Linked DNA regions of Homo sapiens. The protein of the gene in region 3 interacts with the protein of the main gene of each other region in a pairwise test. Each region holds a gene or a part of one and is shown on either strand. Other genes may lie near its edges.

What was found.
Region 1: the proteins of ERGIC3 (region 3) and NDUFB6 interact in binary tests that used the Homo sapiens proteins (3 or more experiments, as listed by UniProt).
Region 2: the proteins of ERGIC3 (region 3) and UBE2J1 interact in binary tests that used the Homo sapiens proteins (3 or more experiments, as listed by UniProt).

The regions. Positions count from the first base shown.
Region 1 is NC_000009.12:32,569,620-32,578,322, forward strand, and holds the start of NDUFB6 (NADH dehydrogenase [ubiquinone] 1 beta subcomplex subunit 6), read right to left. Parts: upstream 3,541-8,703; 5' UTR 3,442-3,540; coding exon 3,262-3,441; intron 1,434-3,261; coding exon 1,341-1,433; intron 1-1,340.
Region 2 is NC_000006.12:89,342,183-89,350,095, forward strand, and holds part of UBE2J1 (ubiquitin-conjugating enzyme E2 J1), read right to left. Parts: intron 1,575-7,913; coding exon 1,501-1,574; intron 274-1,500; coding exon 142-273; intron 1-141. UniProt on the Homo sapiens protein: Catalyzes the covalent attachment of ubiquitin to other proteins. Functions in the selective degradation of misfolded membrane proteins from the endoplasmic reticulum (ERAD) and is essential for cells to recover from ER stress.
Region 3 is NC_000020.11:35,544,885-35,552,797, reverse strand, and holds part of ERGIC3 (endoplasmic reticulum-Golgi intermediate compartment protein 3), read right to left. Parts: intron 5,387-7,913; coding exon 5,293-5,386; intron 4,290-5,292; coding exon 4,124-4,289; intron 3,991-4,123; coding exon 3,933-3,990; intron 1-3,932. UniProt on the Homo sapiens protein: Possible role in transport between endoplasmic reticulum and Golgi. Positively regulates trafficking of the secretory proteins SERPINA1/alpha1-antitrypsin and HP/haptoglobin.

The sequences.
Region 1 (8,703 bases), on a different chromosome or scaffold from region 3:
CCTCCCATCTCAGCCTCTTGAGTAGCTGGGATTATAGGTGTGGACCACTACATCCAGCTATTTTTTTTTCTTTTTTTTTGGAAACATGGAGTCTCACTATGTTGCCCAAGCCGGTCGAACTTCTGGCCTCAAGCAATCTTCCTACCTTGGCCTCTCAAAGTGCTAGGGCTACAGGTGGGAGCCACCACACATGGCCCAGCAATAAAGTATTTTTAAATTAAAGCATATACATCGTTCTTTTACACTGCTATTACACACTTATACCACAGCACAGTGTAAACATAACTTTTATATGCACTAGGAAGCCAAAAAATTTGTGTAACTCGTTTTGGTGGTCTAGAACCAAAGAATACTTTTGGAACTGCATTGTTCTACAACCAATTCTGAAATATCTCTGAGGTATGCCTGTATTTGGCCAATCTCCCTATATATAACCCATCTCCTGTCACCACAACCACATCCCAGCATTAATACCTGCCTCACCTCATTCAGGTTCTGACATCTTGCTCTGAGTTACCACTTGCCTCACTGCCTCATACCATCCTTCTTCCAGATGTCCTCCTCCCTCTGCTCAGGTACCAATATCCTATACTAGGCTGTTGCCACTGTTGCTCCCCAAACAGATGTGCTCACCCTCCTCCCCTGCAACCCACTGAGGATCTAACACCCCTCTCTTGGTATACGAATGCCCTCCTCACTCTTTTGTGCTCCAACACTTCAGGCTACGCAGTCACCACTGCTCCCTCTGCCACGCCACTTCCCAAAATGCATGCCCTTCTCATTCTGCCTGGGATCCAACACCCTGCACCAGACCAAGCCTTTAAAATACCACAACTGGCTCAGTTCCATCAGCCCATGCAAGATCTGTATCAGTGAAAAAGTGCAGGCATCTGGACATCCTGAGTTCTAAATAAATAAAAATTGTGAAGAATCAGATAAAATGAAGGGAACAGAAATTGGGTGATGACAAAGATATGCTTTGTCTATTTTGAATTTTTACCTTATACGAGATACAGGTTTTTAAAAAGGAGCAGAATTGTTTTCTCCCTTCCTATTCATGACTCCAAATTTACCCTAGTATTATTAGGTCACTACATTCTTATCACTTAAATACTAATTTCTATGAGGAAATCCATTTCAAGTTGTAAACTAGTGACAATATTTTTTAAAAACTATACCCAATTATGTAACTTTCATTAAACCTTTTACCTAAGAGAATTCAAAGTACTTCAAAATCTGTTTATAAGTGGCAGATTATTTCCACTAAGTAGGGTAAGATAGCCACAAAGAAAGTAATTTTGGACAATATTAAAAATGAATTCTGAAAAGGACATACTTACAGAAACATGATACTTCATGTAATAATGAATAATCCAGACAGGTACAAGTACATGAGTGAAAACAAAGATACTCTTTTTGTATACCCCATGGACCTGGGGGGAAAAACACATACACAAAATAAACATATCCCATTTTTTATATTTATGGCAGAACAAAAGGCATCAATGATGTAACAATGCCATGACTATTTTACAAAACTCTAAATGGCACATATTTTCTTATAGTCTGTAGGTAACCTCATCTACTCAAATATTCTTAGTAAATGCAGAGTCTGCTAGAAGATACCTACAAAGTCCAGACCAAAATGCTTAAGCAGTATTTTGCAAGACTATAACAAGGCATTTATAGATTTTTTAAAGACTTCCAAAAATATCCTTATTATAAGTTTGTTAAAGATAAAATATAGCAAAATAATGAAAGAATAATTTTAATGTATTTAACCAGAGTAATCAAACCTACAGAATTTTTCAGGTATAGTCATCTCCCTTATTTATTGATCAATGACACTCACATCATTTTAGGTATAAGGCAGACAACCTTGACAACGCCAATGCTGGAAAAAGGACGTTTTACATACTAAGATGGGGTGTCCCAAACTCACTCCAAAATGCCCTCTGCAACACTATTTTAAAAAAGAACTAAAAATGGAACTTTCCCATGTCTTCCAACTTGATTAAAAAACACCTATCCATTCAAGGAAGGGACAATCCAGAATCTAAGAATTATAACAGATATGATTATAAAAGAATAAATTAAAGTAAGGTAAGGTGAACTTCGACACATTATTATTTATTTACTTCCTTATATCACTTGCTGATGGATGGGATGTCAACTTTAAATCAGTGACTGCCAATATTCCGATAATGTCAGGGATACAAAGGGTGGGAGAAGAGTTGAATTTTACCACCATAAATAAGTATCCAATATCACTTTCTCAGAAAAATTTTCAACAATTCTATTGCACTAGACTTTGTAGCACAGTAAGAATCAGATACATGTTGATTACAATATGAACTCATATTCAATTCCTAGCTCCCTGACCACCAGCAAATCACTGAAGCTTTGTAGGCCTCAGTTTCTTCACATTTAAAATGAGGATTAGGAATATCTACCTTACAGGAATAAAGAAATGAAGTAACACATGTAAAACCCCCAGTAGAGTGCCAAGCACACAGCAAGCACCCGTGTGTTACGTAGTATTGTTACTACTATTATCCTGTCATCAGTAAGTGTTGCAGGTAACTGAAAGCAATTCTGAGATGTTTATCATCCATAACAGTCCTCAAGAAAATACCCAGAGGCCTTGAAAATAAAGTTCTTGAATGAGTGATTTTCTTCAAAGCCCAAAATGCGATTTTTTTAATGAAACACTGTGTTAAAAGTACAGAACGGTAGTTTAGAAAGGTAGCTCTTGAATGTGACTCACAAGGCATACCAACAGGACCCTGTCTTTTACGGGGATCACATGGGGCTGTACTATCAGCTAGGGGCTGGCTGTGCCCTCTGGTGGTTGGATACTGTGTTACTTGGTCTCTAGAACCTCACACTTAAAAGTCAGACAAGTGTCCTCAAATACTTAAATCACAGAATTTTAATTCTAGCGAGTCCTTGGTTATTATTCTGAGGGAAGATTTCTACAGTCAAAAGAGAACCAAACGTGCAGCGTCCTGGAAAACCTAAGTATTAAAATTCGCCCCCGTCCACTGTACTTGACAGTAAAAGGCATGATTCTCTCAAAGCCATACATATTCCTGGACTCCTGCCTCCCGAGACTCCAGGAGGACTCTCGGGACTGGCCAGTGTCCCAGAGCACTGAGCGTTATCAGTCCTTGGTGTGGCTGCAGGGAGCGGACGTTCAGTGTTCAGGCTGCCGGCAGCAGTGGGATGTGTTGGGGGGGACCGGAGAGGTCTGTCACTCACCATTTTCCTCCAAGGGGATTTATTCTCCAAAAATTTATTCCAGAATTTCTCCATAGGCCCCATCTTCTGTGGGGGCAGCACCGGCTCCCGAGGGCTCAGCTCCTGGTCCTTCAGCCATCGCCTTCTCAGCTCTCGCAGCTGCTGCAGCCGCAGTTTCTCATCCGGAGTGTACCCCGTCATGTCGCCGCTGGTACCAACGCAAAAGGACACGGCGCACCCTCGAACTACGGACTAGTTACTTAAGCGCGCTCCCGCTCTGCAAAGCGACCTTGCGGGAACGCCGAGCGCCGCGCGCGGTTATTACGTCACATCCTGGTTCCGCCTCTGCAAGGGCCCCAGATTCCTCGCGAGGAAAGCAGTGTGTGGGCATGCACAAAGGTCTCCACCTCCAGTTCTCTCTACGCCCACCTCCGCTATACCCGACCAAATTAGGACCGGGTGGGGACAAGGAGTACTCGTAGTTGTGGGGCCTGAGGAAAGTGACAGATTAGACGAAAGTATGCTAAATTAGAGGACTGGAGGTTTTGCTAAGGAAGAACTTGTATGCTGGGAGGAGGAAGGATAAGCATAAATGTTTCAGTGAATATGCTGGCCAGATTCAAAATTATTTGCTTGCCTCTCCCACCTTGGAATGACCTAGAGAGTGTATGAAAATAGTTACATCCCAGTTCAAATCCCAGCTATGCCAGTAACTGCTGAAGTGCCCTGGGCAGCTGTCTCATCTGTCCCTCCATCTGTACAGGAATAGTGAAAAGAGTAGCTTAATATCTAGCAAAATTGCATAGATGAATTCATGCTTTCACCCAAAAATACGTGTGGTGAAAATATGAAAGAGCATGCACGACTATTCAGCACGATTCATAATACCAAAATATTGGAAATTACCCCCAAATTCCTAAATAAAGGACTGCTTGAATAAATTGTAGTACAACAGTCAAAAGACAGCATTACAACGAATTAGTTTAAAAATCTTAATTGACTCTTATTCGTGATTCTAGAATCAAAAAACACCTCATTCTATAAAGTAGAATGAGTGTTCTGATCAGCTGAGCAGAGGCGGTTGGTTTTATTGGCAAATAGGGGCTGAAGAAAGCAGAAACCGAACAAAAAGTGGACTCATCGTTTCAAAGTTACTTTTAGGGTTAAAGCAGAAGAAACTTCCTTGTTTCACTGACTCAGACTTAAGGGAATTTCCTATTTTTTGGGAAACTGGCCCATTTCAAAGTTCAGTTTGATTGTGTGGTACTTAGCACAAACGACTCCATTCTGGTTTGGTCTGGTCTGCTGGGGCCTAGTGCGTGAAGCTAGTCCAAAACAGTGGCTTCCCAAAAACTTTCACACAACAAAGCAATGAAATGCTAATACAATCGTCAAAAGTAATAAGGAAGAACTCTATATACATCTGTGGTGTGATCTCCAGAATACATTACAAAGTGGAAAAAAAATGGATAGGAATTTGTACAGTATGCTTTTACCCAAAAAGAGAAAGATGGTGGTAATTTCAATATATATACATATTTTCTTAAATTTTCAAAATAATGGGAATGAAAACAATTGAGGTTTTTAAAGATGCTACCTATGGTGGAGGAAATAAATAGGATAGAGGAGACAGGGATAGAATCTAGACATCTCTGGAAACATCTTACTTCATAAATTTGACTTTAGAACCAAGTAAATATTTCATATTGTGAAATTAAATTTAGCTTAAAGATGTCTCCGTATTTTGAGTCCTTATATAATGAACTGCAACCCAACTTAGTATGCAATTTAACTCACAGCCTAACTTAGGAATATACTTCTGTAACAAATAACTGAGTCTCAGCCAATCATCACAGGTGGTCAACTGATCAGCCCATGTTCAAATAAGGCAAAGGCCAACCTGTAGCCAATCAAGCTGTTTCTGTATCTCATTTCTGTTTTTTTTCTATGCGTGCTGCCTGGCCTCTTTGTGGAACGATACTTTCTGAACCTCCTCTGGTTCTGAGGGCTGCCTGATTCTCAAATTGGTCATTGCTCAATTAATTTCTGCTAAATTTAATTTTTCTAAAGTTTTAATTTTAACAATATCATTACAAAACAAAATTAAATTTACAAAAAGCAGTCCATAAAAATCAAGTAAAAACCAGTAGCTCTTAATTGGTCCACTTGGTGGCATAATCTCAAAGGTACACATCATTCTAAATACAATAGCCCTTGTAACAACGCTAGGGTTAGTAGTGCCAATCCCCTCCACTTGGCACAATCAAACATCCACATATAACTTTGGACTCTCCAAAAACTTAATAGCCTACTCTTGACCAGAAGTTTTACTGATAACATACAGTCAATTAACACACATTTTGTATATGTATTATATGCTATATTATTACAATAAAGTAAGCCAGAGAAAATAAACTGTTATTAAGAAAATCATAAGGAGGCAAAGAGAGGGGTTGGTCTTGCTGTCTTGGGGTGCCAGAGGCAGAAGAAAATCCACGTATGATGGACCCTCGAAGTTCAACCTGTTTTTTTCAAGGATCAACTATAACTTTAAACCATTGAATTATTGTAAATCCACTGAGAGACAACCCGCAAAAACAAACAAAAAAAAAACAACTTAAAAAAAATCTTGGCCAGGCGTGGTGGCTCACGCCTGTAATCCCAGCACTTTGGGAGGCCAAGGCGGGTGGATCACAAGGTCAGGAGATCGAGACCTTCCTAGCTAACACAGTGAAACCCCGTCTCTACTAAAAATACAAAAATTAGCCAGGTGTGGTGGCAGGCGCCTGTAGTCCTAGCTACTCGGGAGGCTGAGGCAGGAGAATGGCATGAACCTGGGAGGCGGAGCTTGCAGTGAGCCGAGATCGCGCCACTGCACTCCAGCCTGGGTGACAGAGAGAGGCTCCGTCTCAAAAAAAAAAAAAAAAAATCTTAAACTGTTTTAAATAATCATATTGAGGATAGTGGTGTTGATCATGGTATTGTTAATCTGACACTGAAAATAACTGTTTACGTGAGTGTTGTAAAAACTGATCTTTTTTGGTATGGGGAGACATGTATATAAATTGTATGTGTTTAAGTAAAAATCCTATAGTCAAATTGTGAACAGGAAGAATCAGTATGAACTCATATTGTATTTTATCTTTAAAAATGTATATAATTTTGTCTTAGCTCTACCTGTTGATAATGGCCTAAAAGAAATTGGCAAACCAATAATCATGAGCATCTTTTGTTCTTAGGTTGTGATCTCTCATGTACATTTTCCACTGAAAGGAACTAGGACTGCTTGAAGCAGCAGTTCTCAAAAGTTTTGCTTCCAAGACTTCTTCAAATTCTTAAAAATTGTTGGAGATCCCAAAGAGCTTTTGTTTATGTGGGTTAATCTATTGATGTTTACTGCATTAGAAATTAAACATTTTAAAGTAACAATGTACTCATTAAAAAATTAGTGAGAAGAGTGCCATTGTTTTACATTTTTGTAAATGTCTTTAATGTCTTGCTTCATAAATGACAGCAGAATTGTTATAACTGCTTCTGCATTCAATCATAATGTAACACATCGTATAGCCTCTGAAAATCCCCATGTATATTTGTGAGAGAATGAGACTTTATAAGGGTAAAATAAAAAGGGCAAACAGTCAGTCATCTGTATCTGTGGGTTCCACAATTACATATTCAGCCAACCACAGATAGAAACTATTCAGGAAAAAAAACAATAAAAAGTAATATGAATTTTAAACAATACAGCCTAACAACTATTGACAGAGTATTGACATTGTATTAGGTATTATAAGTAATTGTAACTGAAACACAGGTTTAGTCACTCAACACTTGCAGAGTCCAGTTAACAAGAGCGAGGTCTGGTATAAAGAAAGTGACTTTGTATTCCAAAGCTAGCTTAGGGGAAGAAGTATGGGCTTCCAGCCTCAAAGGTACTGCTCCACTTTTGGAGCAGAAAGTGGGTACTTTCGAAAGGCAGGGGAGACAGCAAGTGGGTAGGAAGTCCACATGCTAGCTTGGCACCTTATCTACTAGGCAGTCAAGTTGGCATCTTCATGGGCAGAAATAAGTTATTAAAATGGCCAAAAACTTTCCCGGTGGGAAAGAGTTTCTCATCATGTATACTTTGGGTTGTAAATCGACTGTTACCTCTTGAGGCAATCTCCTGGTGGGTGAGAGTTTGTTCTGGAGCTTCTGAGTACAAAGTTAGATGAACTTGCCCTGTAGGGAGTGTCTGGTGAAGGGGAGGTAAAGGTTATAATTGCATTTCAAACGGGCTAGTAGGAAGTGGAGAATAGCAAGAAACAGAAGAGAAAAGAAGAAAACTAATAAAAAAAATAACTCATTCTCTTTTTCTTAGAAAAATGGGGATACTCAGTTACATAACCTAGAGATGATTTAAAGTATATGTGAGGATGTGCATAGGTTATATGCAAATACTACCCCATTTTATATGAGGGTGCTAAACCAAACTAAAATCTGGCCCGAGAAAGTCTCCATACTTGCATACTGGAGTTCTTACTTAGGAATTGCAACCTAACTTAATAGATAAGCAAACTGAAAAATCTAATGGAGACATACTTCTGTAACAATAGCTGCATCTCAGTCAATCACTGCAGCCATACTTCAGCCACTCACAGGTGGCCAACTGTCCAAACCAGGTCTAAATAAGGCAAACGCCAAGCTGTAACCAATCTGGCTGTTTCTGTACCTCACTTCTGTTGTGTTTTTTTTTTTTTTTGTATTTCAGTTTCCTTTTTCTATTCTTAAAATCTCTCCAACTGTGCAGAAATAACTCTCTGAATTTGCTGTGATTCTGAGGGCCCAATTTGCGAATTGCTTTTTCCTTGATCAATTAAACTTTGTTAAATTTAATTTGTCTACAGTTTTTCTTTTATCAAGGGAGATGAGCATCTGTGGATTTGGGTATCTGAGAGGGGTCCTGGGACCCTCAGTATCCTTGGGGACATGGATACTGAGTGATAACTCTTACTATGAAAATAATCTTGACATCACGGACCCCATAAAAGGATCACAGGGACTCTTAAGAGGACCTGGGCCAAACTTTGAGAACCTCTGCCTTGGAAAAATGGCTAACCCCAGGCCTGGGTCGGATTAGGAAACGTAAAGAAAGCCTGGAACATCTTATCATGTCGGAAAGCAGGGAAGTTTTAAAGGCCAGTAGGGTTATGTCAAAAGGATTTGGGAGCCAACTTAAATAGGTTCCCACTGGTTAAAGATGGGAAAATTTGAGCATCGACAAGTATAATAACTTCAGTGGATTGAAAAATATCAAATATATTCACATACATGAATTCATAATGATTTTTTAAAACCTCACTTGTCACCTTTGGATGATGTTAGGGAACTGTGATGTTGTAAAACAGATATTTGGTCTTCTTCCCATTTCCTGGCACATAGCTTCTAAAATCCTTGGAATCTCCAAAGTGATGTGTCTTTTTG
Region 2 (7,913 bases), on a different chromosome or scaffold from region 3:
AAATTGTAGTCCCAGGGCCTGGACCCCAAAAGCAAAATTATACTGTTCTATTATTTCTTAATGAAAATGATTTGCTTACTATATTTTGCAGCTACCAGGAAGAGTGAAGCCACAAGCACTCTAAAAATCCAAAATTCTTACCGTTAGGAGAATAATGCTTGGTGGTTTCATGGGATACTCTGGTGGCAGTACTATCCGCCCGTGATAAACTCCTCCATCAAAATCGGAGTCTGGGGGCCCTCTAACCGTGAAGTGCCATTCAAAAAGGTTATCCTGAACAAAAACAATAATCCACAAGGAATTAATAATATTGAAAAGTTTGATCATTTTATCTGAATATTAGAAATATTACCAAGCAAGAAAAATTAAATGCTTTATATTATTGCTAGTATAGTTTCTAATGCATGAGATGTCTCGAGACTATAAGTGATAAATTAAATTTATAAGTAAAAGCTATTTAATCTAGCTTTCATGTTCCATTGAGCTAAAATATTTTATAATAAACACATTAAAAATTTCTGAGTGTTGTTATATATTCATAAGTAACTTACAGGTTTAAATTGGAAATTAATCCTTGAAAGAATAGCAAATTATGATAATTATATAATCAAAAAATTACTATGTTTGGGTTATTTTAACAAATCTTTAAAAATTATCCCTTATAGATGCCTAAGAGCTTATTTATAAAATGGTAATACTAATGTATTTAATGTCATCTTACAGTTACCATGTACTTTTCAGTTTACAAAATACTTGCACTTAAGTTATGATATTTTTATTCCCACTGTTACCATGAAAACCTGCCTGGGTATATTTAAATACCCTCCTTTTACAAATGAGAAGACTGAGAGAGGCCGAGATGTTTATACAAAAAGCCTTGAGTAGCTACGGAGACCCATCAAAAGGCTTCCAAACTGTAAAGTATCTGGGGTTCTTTCCACCTCCCCTCCCTCAGACTCAAGATCTAACCTCGGCCGGGTGCAGTGGCTCACGCCTGTAATCCCAGCACTTTGGGAGGCCAAGGCGGGTGGATCACGAGGTCAGGAGTTTGAGACCAGCCTGACCAACATGGTGAAACCCTGTCTCTACTAAAAATACAAAAATTAGCCGGGCGTGGTGGTGGGGGCCTGTAATCCCAGCTATTCAGGAGGCTGAGGCAGGAGAATTGCTTGAACCTGGGAGGTAGAGGTTGCAGTGAGCCGAGATCACATCACTGCACTCCAGCCTGGGCAACACAGTGAGACTCCGCCTCAAAAAAAAAAAAAAAAAAAAAAAGATCTAACCTCAACTTAGCATCTGAGACCCATTTTATAAAGACCACAAAATCCGTTTCTTCTAAAGTGATTTGGAATGGCTAATGAAATATTCATGAAATATGGTGAATAAAACGTCAAACTACATCACACACATCTGTAATGACTCAAAGCAATGAAAAGCAATTTTAAAAAATTTGTTTTAAATATTAAAATCCATATGAAGAACATGGAGATAGAAACTAACCTCTAAAGGCTGCGCATGGTAATGATCTGTTGGATCTTTCAATTCTGCCGCTTCTTTCATTAAACGTTTAACAGCTAAAATAAAATTCATAAAATAGAGATATTTAAAATATACTTTTCTGAATGATTAGCACAGTCTTACGAGCCTAATGAAAAAATGTGTAGAGAACTAGTGCAAATGAGCATATGGCAAAGGTTTAATTATAAGATTATGGGAATAAATAGAGGGGGAGAGGAAGGAAACAGTTGCTAGGCATTAACACTTTAAAAGAGTTATATATTAAATATATAGTGAAGACACTATTTTTATTTAATAAGTACTTATATATACTTCCTATATGGTGGTATTTATTGAAGTGCTTTTACAGACATTAATAACTCATTTAACCCTTAATACAACATTACTAGATAGGTATTATTTTTATCCCCATTTTCCAGATGAAGAAGCCGAGACACGGAGAGATTATATAGTCACACAGCTAGTAAATGACAGAGATGGGATTCCAACACAGGCAATTTGGCTCTACCTGTTAAAATGTCTTTATTAACAAAAAATGTATTCTCTGGATCTCATGCTCGGTGAACAGGAAACACCTCTATATCCTCCAACTCTTGGGACTTTCCATCCACTATCTTGCATTAAATGAATGGACTGTCCCCTGAATTCACTGACTCTCCAAAGCCCCGATGAAATTCCTTCTTGAAATGATCCTTCAGCTTCACTAAAACCTCCAGTCCACTGACCCCACAACTTTCTTCACCCCTCCTATACTTATATTCATTTTCCTCTTTATCCACACCCTTGGCTCTTAGGAGTCCCTCTTGTACACTCCCTTAATAAAATCCAACTGTGCCTGACCCAACCCAACCATCTTATTTGCTGTCTATACCCAAACAGCTGAGCATCACTGAAAGGAGGAAAAAAAGTCAGAGAGGATGGTGCAGTAATGCCATTACAAGTCATTACCAACAACCTCTACTGGGATACAATGCCACCTAATGTCCCCACATTTCTCTAGTAGGCCTTCCAGCCTACTCTTTCCACCTAGCACTCCAAGATTATTTCCCACCTAGTCTAATTTCTCCTCTCTTTCAGTTAATGGCACCCAGCTTTTTATCTCCCTGATGAATGACTGCTAGCAGGAGCTGCTCAGATGCCTATCACAATCTACAATCCTATCTGTATCTGCACCCTCTGTCTTCTATTGGCTCTCAAAATTCAATCCTTTGATATGCACTCTGGATCCCAACCCCTCTCATTTCAAGCTTTTGGTGCTAAAACATGTCAGGATACTGCAGTGGGATGGCTGAGTTAGGGAAAAGGCTTCTCAAAACTGGGTTTGCAACCACTGATGTAGCTCAAAAGAGAGGTATGCACCAGATGCTGGGAGGACAGGCTGGGCATCTAACTTTAGAGCAAATGGAAGAGAAAAGGAGTCAGGTACTGAATGTGAAAGAAATAACAGTAGAAACTCCCCAGGTAGATATGAATAGGAAGAGGTAATAATAAAAGTAAAATGTGTAGAGGCACAGGTTGGAATGTTATGGGGAGAGAGATTAACTGAGAAGGAACCCCTACATGTATATAACCACAATGGTTTGGTATGTATCAAGACTTTTGCATAAAATTGCATTTGAGGCCAGGCGTGGTGGCTCATGCCTGTAATCCTAGCACTTTGGGAGACCGAGGCGAGTGGATCACCTGAGGTCAAGAGTTCGAGACTAGCCTGGCCAACATGGTGAAACCCTGTCTCTACTAAAAATACAAAAATTAGCCAGGCATGGTGGCGGACGCCTGTAATCCCAGCTACTCGGGAGGCTGAGGCAGGAGAATCGCTTGCACCCAGGAGGTGGAGGTTGCAGTGAGCTGAGGTCGTGCCATTGCACTCCAGCCTGGGCTTCAGAGAGAGACTATCTCAATAAAACAAACAAACAAACAAACAAAACCAGGCACGGTGGCTTAGGCCTGTAATCCCAGCACTTTGGGAGGCCGAGGCAGGTGGATCACCTGAGGTCAGGAGTTTGAAACCAGCCTGACCAGCATAGTGAAACCCCATCTCTACTAAAAATACAAAATTAGCCTGGTGTGATGGCACATGCCTATAATCCCAGCTACTAGGGAGGCTGAGGCAGGAGAATCGCTTAAACCCAGGAAGTGGAGGCTGCAGTGAGCTGAGATCGTGCTGTTGCACTCCAGCCTGGGCAACAAGAGCGAAACTACGTCTAAAAAAAAAAAAAAAAGCCCTCCAGGCCGGAGGGCAGTGGTACGAACACAGCTCACTCACTGAAGCCTCAACCTCCCAAGCTCATGCAGTCCTCCCACCTTGGCCTCCCCAATAGCTGAGACCACAGGCATGCACCACCATGCCTGGCTAATTTTTAAATTTTTTGTAGAGCTGGGGTCCCCCTGTCTTGCCCAGGCTGGTCTCGGGCAATCCTCCTACCTCAGCCTTCCAAAGTGCTGAGATTACAGGCGGGAATCAGCATGCCTGGCCAAAAAAAAGTTGTTACTATCCTACTTCACAATTATTAATATTCTTTTCCATTTCTTACTCTGAACTAAGCCCCTATATGCAGAGACTTTGTTCACTGGATCATCAACTATTTCTTGAGTTCCTACTAGGTACTAGATGCTACAGCTTCATGCGTAAACAAAATATGGCTTTGGTCACTAAAGACTGACGGCTGGGAGGTGCAGTCAATACAAAACAGAATGATAAATGCTATATTAGAAATATGTACATACTGAGACACCCTCTCCCTCCAAGTCTAGAGACTGGGCTTTGGTCAATTCCCTGAACACACTTTACCTCCCCTCCACTCTCAGCCTTTCTATACAGCTTTCCTCAGGGCCCAGGCTGCTCCGGCCCCATCCTCCGCCTCACCGTCTAGTCTGGCTACCCTAGACCTTTAAGTAACTTCTCAGGAATGTCTCTATGACACCTTCCCTGGTTGCCCCCTGCCCCCCACCCCCTACAGTGCTTGGAGATTTCAATCTGGGCAGATCAAAATCTCTGAGGCGTCCTAGGGAGGGGTAGAGACTAGGAATGCTCTCTGAATTACTCTGGTTAGGTTTAGAAACCACTGCCCTAGAGACCAGGTTGAGTCTCCTTGCTCTATGCCATCATAACACTGTATTTTTCCTCTTATGAAGTTCATCTCACTTGTAATTACTTGTTTAATATCTGTTTTTCCTGCTAAGCAATAGTAATGACAGTGTAGCTGTAGCAGTACAGTCTCCTCAGGGCTTAGCACATGGTAAGTACTCAAATATTAGTTGAATTAAATTTTACTATCTTCTCTCAACATAGCTCTCAGAATCCGATTAAAGGCAATGGTTTTTAAACTTACTTAATAAAACAATTAAACTTATTTAATAAAACAAAATCCTTCATTCAAAGAAAGCTTAATGAGAACCCCAACAGGTGAAACAAAAACCACAGAGCCGCTTTGGTTGCAGAGGCCAGTGGAAGGGCCTGCGGACTATCTACTCCCTGTCCTTCCATTTCACTCCTGAAGGGACCCATAGAACAAAGATGGAAAACCCTGCTTTAAAGCCACATAAACATATCATTCCTTTAAGTTAATATTATTAGATAGAAATGCAATTATGGAAGCTGTTATGAAGTTAATTAGTTTGGAGATGCCAAAAAGATTGTTTTTCCTTCATTCCTCGTCAACTGGCTGAACTCAATAATGATTAAGCTGAAGTCAGATTTTATGTCATTCTATACCCTTATCGCATTTTCTCTGCCTCTTCCCTACTCAGTTCAGTTCAACAGGAGAGAAGAAAATAAACACTCAAAACTTGTACCTGGATATTATGAGAGATGTATAAAGGGTCAGAATTGTTATAAGAATGTATCTGTACCAATCCTGTAAAGGAACAATCATTGGTTCAACAGCTAAATAGCTAATTAGTTCATAAGTCACTCAGGCACATACCATGTAAGAGCTAAGGTCATGTAGCCAAAAGGTGAGATTAGTCTCTTGTTTCCATAAGCTATTTTTTTTGCAAAAATAACATATATTATGAATGCTTCAGTGAAAAGAAACAGGGACTCGATTTAGAGCTGCATTAAAATTCTGACTCTGACATTTTGTAGCTCTAAGTCCTTGAACAAGTCACTTGATCTGATGTTTACATCTGTCAAATAAGAGTCAATAATTTCTCCACAAAATTCTCCTTTCCTTTTCACCCCTCCTTCCTGCCCAGTCCCTGAGTCATTAAGGTTGAAAATGGACTGGTATATAAGGCCTTCTCAATGATTCTTCCTAACTCAAAACCATGCCTCAGCAGATTTCGCTGGCCTTATGATATGGCTCCCTGGCTCCTGAGGAGAAATACCACTGTTAGGAAACAGTCATGGTTCACAGTGCTGCCTGGCAACCGGGCTACAGCATAGTCTGCCCCTCCTGATACTCCATCTCTTGCTTCTACATGGCTAGAGAGGAAACTTTTATTCCAGCTCCTCTCCTATCTCTTGGAAAGGTTTTTCCATGGAATCCTTTCACTGTGGTGAGATAAGATGTGCCAGGAAAGGAAGGGGTGGCACCTGGATGCCTGCTCTTGTTCTTCTTTCTTATAGAGGCCACATGGACACTCTGGAGCCATGCTCTAGGTGCTGTGGGCCTAGGCATTAGCATTCTTCACACACCTTGGCTAGCTCACTAGCCTCACATTGGGGTTTGTATACAGCTAAAAATAAAGGGATCTTCTACAGGCCACTGCTTCCCATATATGGATTCCTCTTCAAAAGCAATTATCTTGATATTATCAATTCCCAAAGCATGAGTGAAATGCAGGAGACAGGTATATTAAGGAAGGCATGCTCCCTAACTGCCTCTTCCTGCTCCCATAATGAAGGTACTTAAGCAAATGCCTACAGAGTGATGTTTCTGCCCAGGAGGACCCTGCAAATGTATCAGTTCAACAAACATTTAAAGAATGTCTGAGTGTTGGAGATAAAACAATGACCAAGACCTGCTTCTTGTCTTCCGTAACAGTCAGTAGAGAAAGACATGAAAATAATTACAACCAAGTGGTAATATTGACCAAGTATATATGTACAAGTATATATAGGAACTACTTTAGTCTGCCTAGGGGAGCTAGACAAGGCTGAACCTTAAAGCTTGAAGAACTATAGGAATTTCAGATGGATTTAAAGGAAGGCATTCTAAGCAGAGGTTCCAACAGGAACCAAAGCACCTAAGTGAGAAAAGCTACTCCAGCTAGAGAGTCATTCAGGCAAAATGGATAGGTAAAAACGCAGGCCTGGTGCAGTGGCTCTCACCTGTAATCTCACCACTTTGGGAAGCCAAGGTGGAGGGAACACTTGAGCTCAGGCGTTTGAGACCAGCCTGGGCAACATGGTGAAACCCTCGTCTCTACAAAAAATACACAAATTAGCTGGGTGTGGTGGCACACACCTGTGGTCCCTGCTACTCGGGAGGCAGAGGTGGAAGAATCACTTCAGCCCAGGAGGTTGAGGCTGTAGTGAGCTGTGATGGCACCACTGCACTCCAGGCTGGGAGACCCTGCCTCAAAAAAAAAGAAAATGAGGAAGAGCATAAGAGTGGTGGACAGTGAGGCTGGTGAGGAAGGGCAGGGTCAATCATGAGCAGCCCTGTAGGCCAAGCTAAGCAGTTTACTTTGAACTTTATTGACAGCTATCAGAAAGCTACTGAAAATTTTTCAATTTGGGGGTAATCAGTTTTTGTTTTGATTGATCTGGTGACAACAGTGACTGATTAGATATATGTGTTTCTGTGTGTGTATTGAGTTGTGTGTTTCAGGGCAGGGATGGAGCAAGGAAGCGACCAAGAAATAAAAAATGACTCCCATAGGTGCCTGAGTGCTGTCTATCCCTGAGATATGAAATACTAGGGTAAACTGCAAGTTTAGGGGAGGAGAAGAAAACTGATGAGTTTTGTCTTTATACTTACAGAGATTTTTTTCACTCTATGGGAAATGAAGATGTTGAGTCACCATAAGTTCTGTGTATCTATAGCTTACGAGAAGGGCCTGAGTTGGACATGAAACCTTGAGTGGATTAGTGGGAAGGTGCAGTTGACACCAATGGCATGGATAGGTAACTCTTAGACTTCTGGTGGAGGCAGTGGGTACTTTTGCACCAGTCTCTTATACTCCCACCACCTGCTGCACATGTCAATGGCCCCCTGATGAAGAAGCTGCCAAAGGAGGTGCTTTATACACATTTCTTCACTTTGTACTATAAGACCCTACTTCCTTGGCCAGAGCAGACCCAAACACGGGTCAAGTAGCTTGATCCATAGACAACTATTGACAGATTATAGACAAGTAGCATGATCCATAGACAACTACTGCTACTACAGTAGCAGATCCATAGACAACTACTGACAACTACCACAGACAACTACTGTGAGGTGATC
Region 3 (7,913 bases):
TCCCTGATCTTGTGCTCTGCCTACCCAAGCCACTTGCTCTGTTGGCCATTCCCTAAACTTTGTCATTAACAAAGCCCCTTCTGTGACTTCAATTTCAAGCAACTCATGCTCCACCAGCTTTCTAATTTCCTCCAGTTCCCCAATTCCAATAACTTGTTGACACTACACTCAGGACTTGTAGTCCCTTTTTCCTCCTGCCCCCTCACTGGCTTCTCCACATCCTGTCTTTCCTCCTTTCCTAGCTCATATGCTGTGGTCCAGAATCAAGATGAGTTCTTTACATATTTGACTCCCTCACCTTTGCAGGCACCTGGCAACACCAAACCCCATGCAATTGCAATGTTCTGTTGACTGAGTCCATTCCCACACAGACAACCATGCTGACCGCTCTCTTTGCATTCACAGCCGCGGACTCCAGGGAGGCCCTAGGGCTGCATCAATCCTACTCAATCTCCCCAGTCCACGCACTCTTCCACCCCCAAGTGACCAGTCACATCTTTTCTTCTTTCAAATCTCCAACACCTCCTTCCCTCTCTCCTCATTCTCAACTGAGGACCTTCCTTCCTACAACACGGAGAAGATGGGAAGACTCAGAAGAGACTCTCCATGTACTTCTGCCACACCAGCTACCACCCTACCTGTACCTACAGAGCCTGCCCTTCCTCCTGGTGCTAAGTTTGGACTTTCCACATATGTAAGGCACTAGATTCTGTCTTCTTTCTCCTTCTCCAGGACTTCACTCCGGTCACTGTCTCGTCTCTGGAGCATCACTTATGCTCTTTAGTCGATAATTTCCAACAGCATATTAACATTCTGCTACATCACCCTCCTTAGAAAAGCCTCCCTCGACTCCACATTTCCCTCTAGCTTCAGCTCATGCTCTCTCCTCCCCTAGGCAATTTCCACTATAGAGCTGTCAATACTGGCTCCAACTCCTCCCCCATTCCCTCCCGAACCCACTCTAGGGTGGTCCTGTCACACCCTTAAATGACTCAGTCAAGGCTATAAGTGACTGTTGCATGTACATGCCATGGTCAATTCCCGCTTGACATCCAGAAGCATCTGATGTGGTATTTGAAACACCCGTCCGTGGCTGGCAGGATGCCACATTCCCAGCTTACACTCCTCCTCCAGTCTCCCCTACCAATTCCCCCTGACACCCTTGGCCTCTAATGTGGGAGGCCTGGCACCCAGCCCTTTGAGCTTCCCTTCTTCTCCATCTGCCCTCACCTCCAGGGTGATTTCATCCAGTCCCACAGCTCTATACACATGCTGATGATGCCAACATCTGCATCTCCAGGCAAGTCCTCTCCCTGAACTCCAGGCTTGAATGGAAAACTTACTTGACACCTTGGGTGTCTAGAAGGACACCCAGATGCTATTGGTCTGAACACGTCAAAAGCCGAATACCAGCTGTACGATCCCATTTCCGAACATCTAAACCTGCCCTGAGTCTCCCTCATCTTGCTAAATGGCAACTCTATCCTTTTTTTTTTTTTTAATGGAGATGGAATCTCACTCTGTCGCTCAGGCTGGAGTGAAATGGCACAATCTCGGCTCCCTGCAACCTCCGCCTCCTGGGTTCAAGCAATTCTCCTACCTCAGCCTCCCGAGTAGCTGGGACTACAGGCGCACGCCGCTACGCCCGGCTGATTTTTTGCATTTTTTAGTAGAGACAAGGTTTCATCATGTTGCCCAGGCTGGTCTCAAACTCCTCAGCTCAGGCAATCCACCTGCCTTGGCCTCCCAAAGTGCTAGGATTACAGGCAACTCCATCCTTCTTACTACTCAGGTACAAAACTTTGGAGGCATCCTTGACTCCTTTTTCCTTTATCCCTCATGCCCATCAGGAACTCTTCTCAGCTCTACCTTCAAAATACATCCAGAAGCCAGTCACTTCCCACCACTTCCACTGCCACTCTGGGCCGTGCCCCACCATCTTTTGCCTGGATTGATCACTGCAACTGCCTCCTAATGGGCCTCTCTGATTCTGTCCTTTCCCCTGCCCAGTCTTGTCCACAGAGCAGCTGGAGAGCTTTTAAGTCAGATCATGCCTCACCTTCTTCAGGGCCCTACAATGGCTTCTCATCTCATGCAGAGTAACGGCCCGAGTCCCTACAATGCCCCTGCAAGCCCTGCATGATATGGCCCTGTGACCTCTCTTTATTTATTATTATTTTTTGAAATGGAGTCTCACTCTGTTACCCAGGCTGGAGTACAATGGCGCAATTTCAGCTCACTGCAACCTCCACCTCCCAGGTTCAAGAGATTCTCGTGCCTCAGCCTCCCGAGTAGCTGGGATTACAGGCGTGTGCCACCACACCCAGCTAATTTTTGTATTTTTGGTAGAGACAGGGTTTCACCATGTTGGCCAGGCTGGTCTTGAACTCCTGACCTCAGGTGATCCACCCGCCTCGGCCTCCCAAAGTGCTGGGATTACAGGTATGAGCTACTGCACCCGGCCTCTCTCACTTCATTTCTAAGCATGCTCCTCTGCTCCAGCCACCCTAACCTTCTTACTGTATCTTGAACTTGCCAAGCACATTCTAGCCTTAGGAATTTGCATTTGCTGTTCTCTCTGCTTGTAACACTTCCTCCCCAGACATCCACATGGCTGGCTCCCTCACTGTCTTCAGGTCTTTGCTAAAATATTACCTCATCAAAGAGTTTTTCCCTGACCTCCATATTTAAAATAGGACCCTCACTGCCCTACCCTAGCCCCTCCCCATTACCATCTTTATCCTGCCTTGTTTTGGTCCATATGACTTAACAGCATCTGATATACCATATACAGATGCTCCCTGACCTACACTGGGGTTACGTCCCAATAAACCCATTGCAAGTTGAAAATATTGTAAGTCGGCCAGGTGCGGTGGCTCATGCCTGTAATCCTAGCACTTTGGGAGGCCGAGGCGGGCAGATCACTTGAGGTCAGGAGTTCAAGACCAGCCTGGCCAACATAATGAAACCCCATCTCTACTAAAAATACAAAACTTAGCTGGGCGTGGTGGCACGCACCTGTACACCCAGCTACTCAAGAGGCTGAGGTAGGAGAATCACTTGAATCCAGGAGGTGGAGGTTGCAGTGAGTCAAGATCATGCCACTGCACTCCAGCCTGGGCGACAGAGTGAGACTCTGTCTCAAAAAAGAAAAAGAAAATATCGTTAAGTGAAAAATGCATGTAATACCCATCATGAAGTTAAAAATTGCAAGCTGAACCATTGTTAATTGGGGACTATTTATATTTTATATACTTATTGTCTATTTCTTTACTAGAATGTTCTGAGGGCACAGATTGTTCACTACTGTACCCTTAGCAACTAGACTAGTAGGTGATTACTAAATATTTTGTGAATGCATGAATGAACAAATGAATGAGAATAAATCTCATTTGTTCACCCCAACAGCCCTGTGAGTGGGTACTATTATCATCATCCCCATTTTACAGAAGAAGCAACTAAATAGGGCCCAAATATGACATAGCCCAGGTGTGGCAGAACCTGTGCTCCAACCTAGCTCTGCTTCTCCCAAAGCCTCATGCACAGGTCATCATCGGACACGGGGGGCTACCATTTCAACAAGTACCTACCACAAGCCAGGCTCCGTGCTATCATCTTTAACCTGCACACACACCCTGTGAGATAAGTGCCCTCACAACATTTTATAAAGTAGAAAACAGGAGTCAAAAAGATTAAGAAACCTTCTCAAAGTCACACAGCCAGTAAGGTCTGAAACTGGTATCTGAATGCAGGCAGTCTGGCTCCTCGGCCTGTGCTCTTAGCCACTGTGCCAAACTGCTGCCCTGAGATGAAGGCCTGCTCTGGCCAAATGGTTGCCCAAGACAAATGAGCAGCAGGCAGAAGAGGACCACTCAAGCTCACCAAGAAGGTGGCCAGCATCTAAATCTCCCCAGCTAGTGCAGATCACTCACCGTGCACATGGGACTGCTGGAAGCTCTTCCCAGGGGCAAAGTGGAAGTTTCCGGCCACCTGTAAGGAACATTCTCTCTCATTCACTGGCTGTGTCCTCCTTTTGCCTACTCAGGGCCTGACTGGGCCCTCGGTTCCCAGTGGAGCTTGCCCAGCCCAGCTGGCCCTATCTTGTCTTGATCCCTCCTGATACCTTATTGACTTCCAAGAAGCCATACACCTGGCAGCCTTCATTCTTCTGCTCCTGCATCTTCTGGCTGAAGCCCTCTCGCCGGCACTGCTCAATAGTATCTGGGTTCTTGAAGGCCCAGCCTCTACGGCGATATGCCTCCCGCACATCTTCACAGGTGTTACAGCACCTGTAGGGCAGGGAGTGACGGTGAGAGTGTTAAAGAGGCATAAGTCCAGTGCTGGCATCTGGGGAAATAGAGCCCGAGCAGCTCTGCCTGCTAATGAAGGCTCTGCTAGCCTCATCCCTGACCACCAAACATTCTCCAAATGTGTTTCCTCAGTGGCAGAAGGACTGTTTTCTTTTTTTAATTTTTAAAATTTTTTTAGAGATAGGGTCTTGCTATGTTGCCCAGGCTGGTCTCAAACTCCTGAGCTCAAGTGATTCACCTACCTCGGCCTCCCAAAGTGCTACGGATTACAGGTGTAAGCCATTGTGCCCAGACTAGGACTGTGAAAAATACATATTCCCATTCTGTTTGAGGCGATGACAAGTTTTAGGACAGAGAGTGGTGACTGCATGACACTGTGAAGATACCTAATGCCACTGAGTTGCACACTTAAAAATAGTTAAAATGGTAAATTTTATGTCACATATTTTCCCACAATAAAAAAAAATTTAAGTACACATTCCCAGGCCCCACTCCAGACCTGCTGAATCAGTCTTGCAGAAGTCAGGGTCTGGGAAACAGCAGCAGTTATCAGATACTGAGGGTCTAATAATCTGGGCTGGGCCTTCCACCTCAGTGCTTTACACACAGTATACAGCTAATCCATATGTGACTCTTACGAGAAGATGTTATTATCATCCCTCTTCACATAGAGAGGTTACATGGCTTGGCCCAAGGAAACGGGTAGAACCCAGGTAACTGGACTCCAGAGACCACCTCTGAACCATTTCTCTAGGTGGAAGAGCAGAGACCACTTCAGCTTCATCTCTAGGTCTGCAGCTCCCAGATAGGGCCTGGTTACAAAGCCTCAGTCGCTTGCACCAGGATCAATGACAGAGGCACATACCCCGCCCACTCTAGATTCTTGGTCTGACCTCCCCACCTGCCACAGTCTGACTGAGGCTGAGGCTGACTGACAGATGGCGCCTGATGGGAACCCTGCTCCCGCTCCCCGCCAGCTCACTTGATATCTTCTGCCTCAGCACCATAGCAGCTCTCACAGCGATCAGGGTCCAGGGAGTCAGGGTCAAACACCGTCACCTCGACTTTCCCAAGCTCTAAGGGGAGGGGAGAAGCAGAGGCATCAGCTGGGGCCAGACACAGTGAAATCGGTGGCTCCAGTCTGCACAAGCCCTTTGCTTAGGGATAATAAAAGTTATAATAACTAATATTCATATAGTACATGCTACGGGTCAGGCATTAAGCACTTCTACACACATATCAATTCTTTTAATAAAAGAAACAGTAAGAAAACAGTCAACAGTAAATACTGAACATTAGCTGTGTACAGATCACTGTACTTCACAACCATCATCTCATTTCATCCCCACAATGACTCTTTGAGGGTGGCGGTAATTATCCCTGTTTTACTGAGAAGATGTTGAGGCTCACTGATGAGAAGTGACTTTGCCCAATGCAACCGAGGAAACAGATTTCAGCTAATTCCAACGTGTATGCCACTAACCTCTTGCCATGGTGCTTCTCCTCACACCTCTCCCTCTGCACCGGCTCCTTGCCTCACTCTAATCACCCCATCATAACTGGTGATTTCAATAATGAATACTGACCTCCCGACTCATGATAATCTTTTGATTTTGCCATCTCACCTCAGCTACCCATTTTCATACTCATACCTAGATCCTGTCACTGCCAATAACTGCAAATCTTCCAAAATTCAACTTCAAGTGTCTGAGTCTTCAACTACTTACCCTTATTTTCCAAGTTCACTATTTAGTACCCGAAATCCACCAATTCTTTGACACTGCTGACACTATCACGTCCTCACTTCCCTCCTGAAATCCCATGGTCCACTGTAATTATTCTCTTGCACATAACCACAACTCCCTGTTCCTCTCGTCTTTCATTTACAAATCCAGCAAAACCCACACCCTGGTTCCATTCAACTCTCTGTACCTACTTCTTTCCTGAAGCTCCTTTAGGACTGCCTGGCAATTCCACTTCATTTCTCTAATCAGTTCACTCTCCCACTCTCTAAGGTGACTTAGACCTTCTCCTCTCTCCTTAGGCTCCCAAAACCCCCTCCTATTTCTTCACTTAGCTAATGTCCTTGCTTTCAATTTCCACTAAGAAAAGAGAAGCAACAGAACTTCACTTGCTCTCACCACCAAACCCACCATCTCACCACTTTCTCCTTCAGATCCCACTCCATTTCTCAGCTCTCCCTTACAGTGAAACTCCCAAGTCACCTATAGGTAATGTCTCCACTTCCTTTTTTGCTCTTTGATCCGATTTTCATCCTCAACAGTATCAAAATTGTTCCTTTCAAAGTCTCCAGGAATCTCTTTGTTGCTAATTTCAATGGTCAATTCTCACTCCTCATTTTACTGGACTATCAGTAGCTTCTGATACAACTGCTCACTCTCTCTTCTTGAAACTCTCTCCACTTGGCTTTTGGGACACCTCTTGGTTCTTCTACGTCAATGGCTAATCCGTCCCAATCTTCCTTCCTGTCCTGACTTTTAAATATTGGAGATACCCAGGGTACAGGCCGTAGACCTATCCTCTACCTACATTGACTCCCCAGGTTTTCTTAGTCCAGTTGTTTAAACTACCCTGTACCTGCTGATAACTCCTCTAAATTCTAGACTGGTACATCTAATTGCCTCTTAATATCACCAGAGTATAAAATAGGAACCCCAAATTTAACATACCCCAAACCTGAGATTCCTCTTTCCTGCAAATCCTGACCTTACTCTGTGGAAGCTAGTTTCCAAGATGTCCTCAATGATCCCCACTTCCTAGTATTCACACCCTTATGTAGTCCTCTCCCACAATGAGTAAGGCTGACCTGTGTAAGCACTAGTATATTGCAGAAATGATGGTGTACAACTTCTGAGGCTGGGTCATAAAAAAGGTTACACGTTTTTTTGTTGTTGTTGTTGAGACAGAGTTTCACTCTTGTTGCCTAAGCTGGAGTGCAGTGGCGTGATCTCGGCTCACTGCAACCTCTGCCTCTCTGGTTCAAGTGATTCTCCTGCCTCAGCCTCCTGAGTAGCTAGGATTACAGGTGCCCACCACCACACCCGGCTAATTTTTTTTTTTTTGTATTTTTTAGTAGAGATGGGGTTTTACCATGTTGGCCAGGCTGGTCTTGAACTCCTGACTTCAGGTGATCCAACTGCCTCAGCCTCCAAAAGTGCTGGGACTACAGGCGTGAGCCACCATGCCTGGCCAAAGGTTATGGTTTCTACTTTGTTCTCTCAGCTCACTTGCAAGATCCAAGTGGGGGAAGCCAGTTGCCGTGATACAAGGACACACAAGCAACCCTACTGAGAGGCCCATGTGGTGAGGCACTGAGGCATCCTGCCAACAGCCCTATGAGTGAGCCCTTTAAAAGCAGATCCCCTGCTGGGCGTGGTGGCCCATGCCTGTAATCCCAACACTTTGGGAGGCCAAGGCGGGTGGATCACCTGAGGTCAGGAGTTTGAGACCAGCCTGGCCACGATGGTGAAACCCTGTCTCTACCAAAAATACAAAAAGTAGCCGGGTGTGGGGGCAGGCGCCTGTAACCCCAGCTACTCAGAAGGCTGAGGCAGGTGAATCACTTGAAGCCGGGAGGCAGAG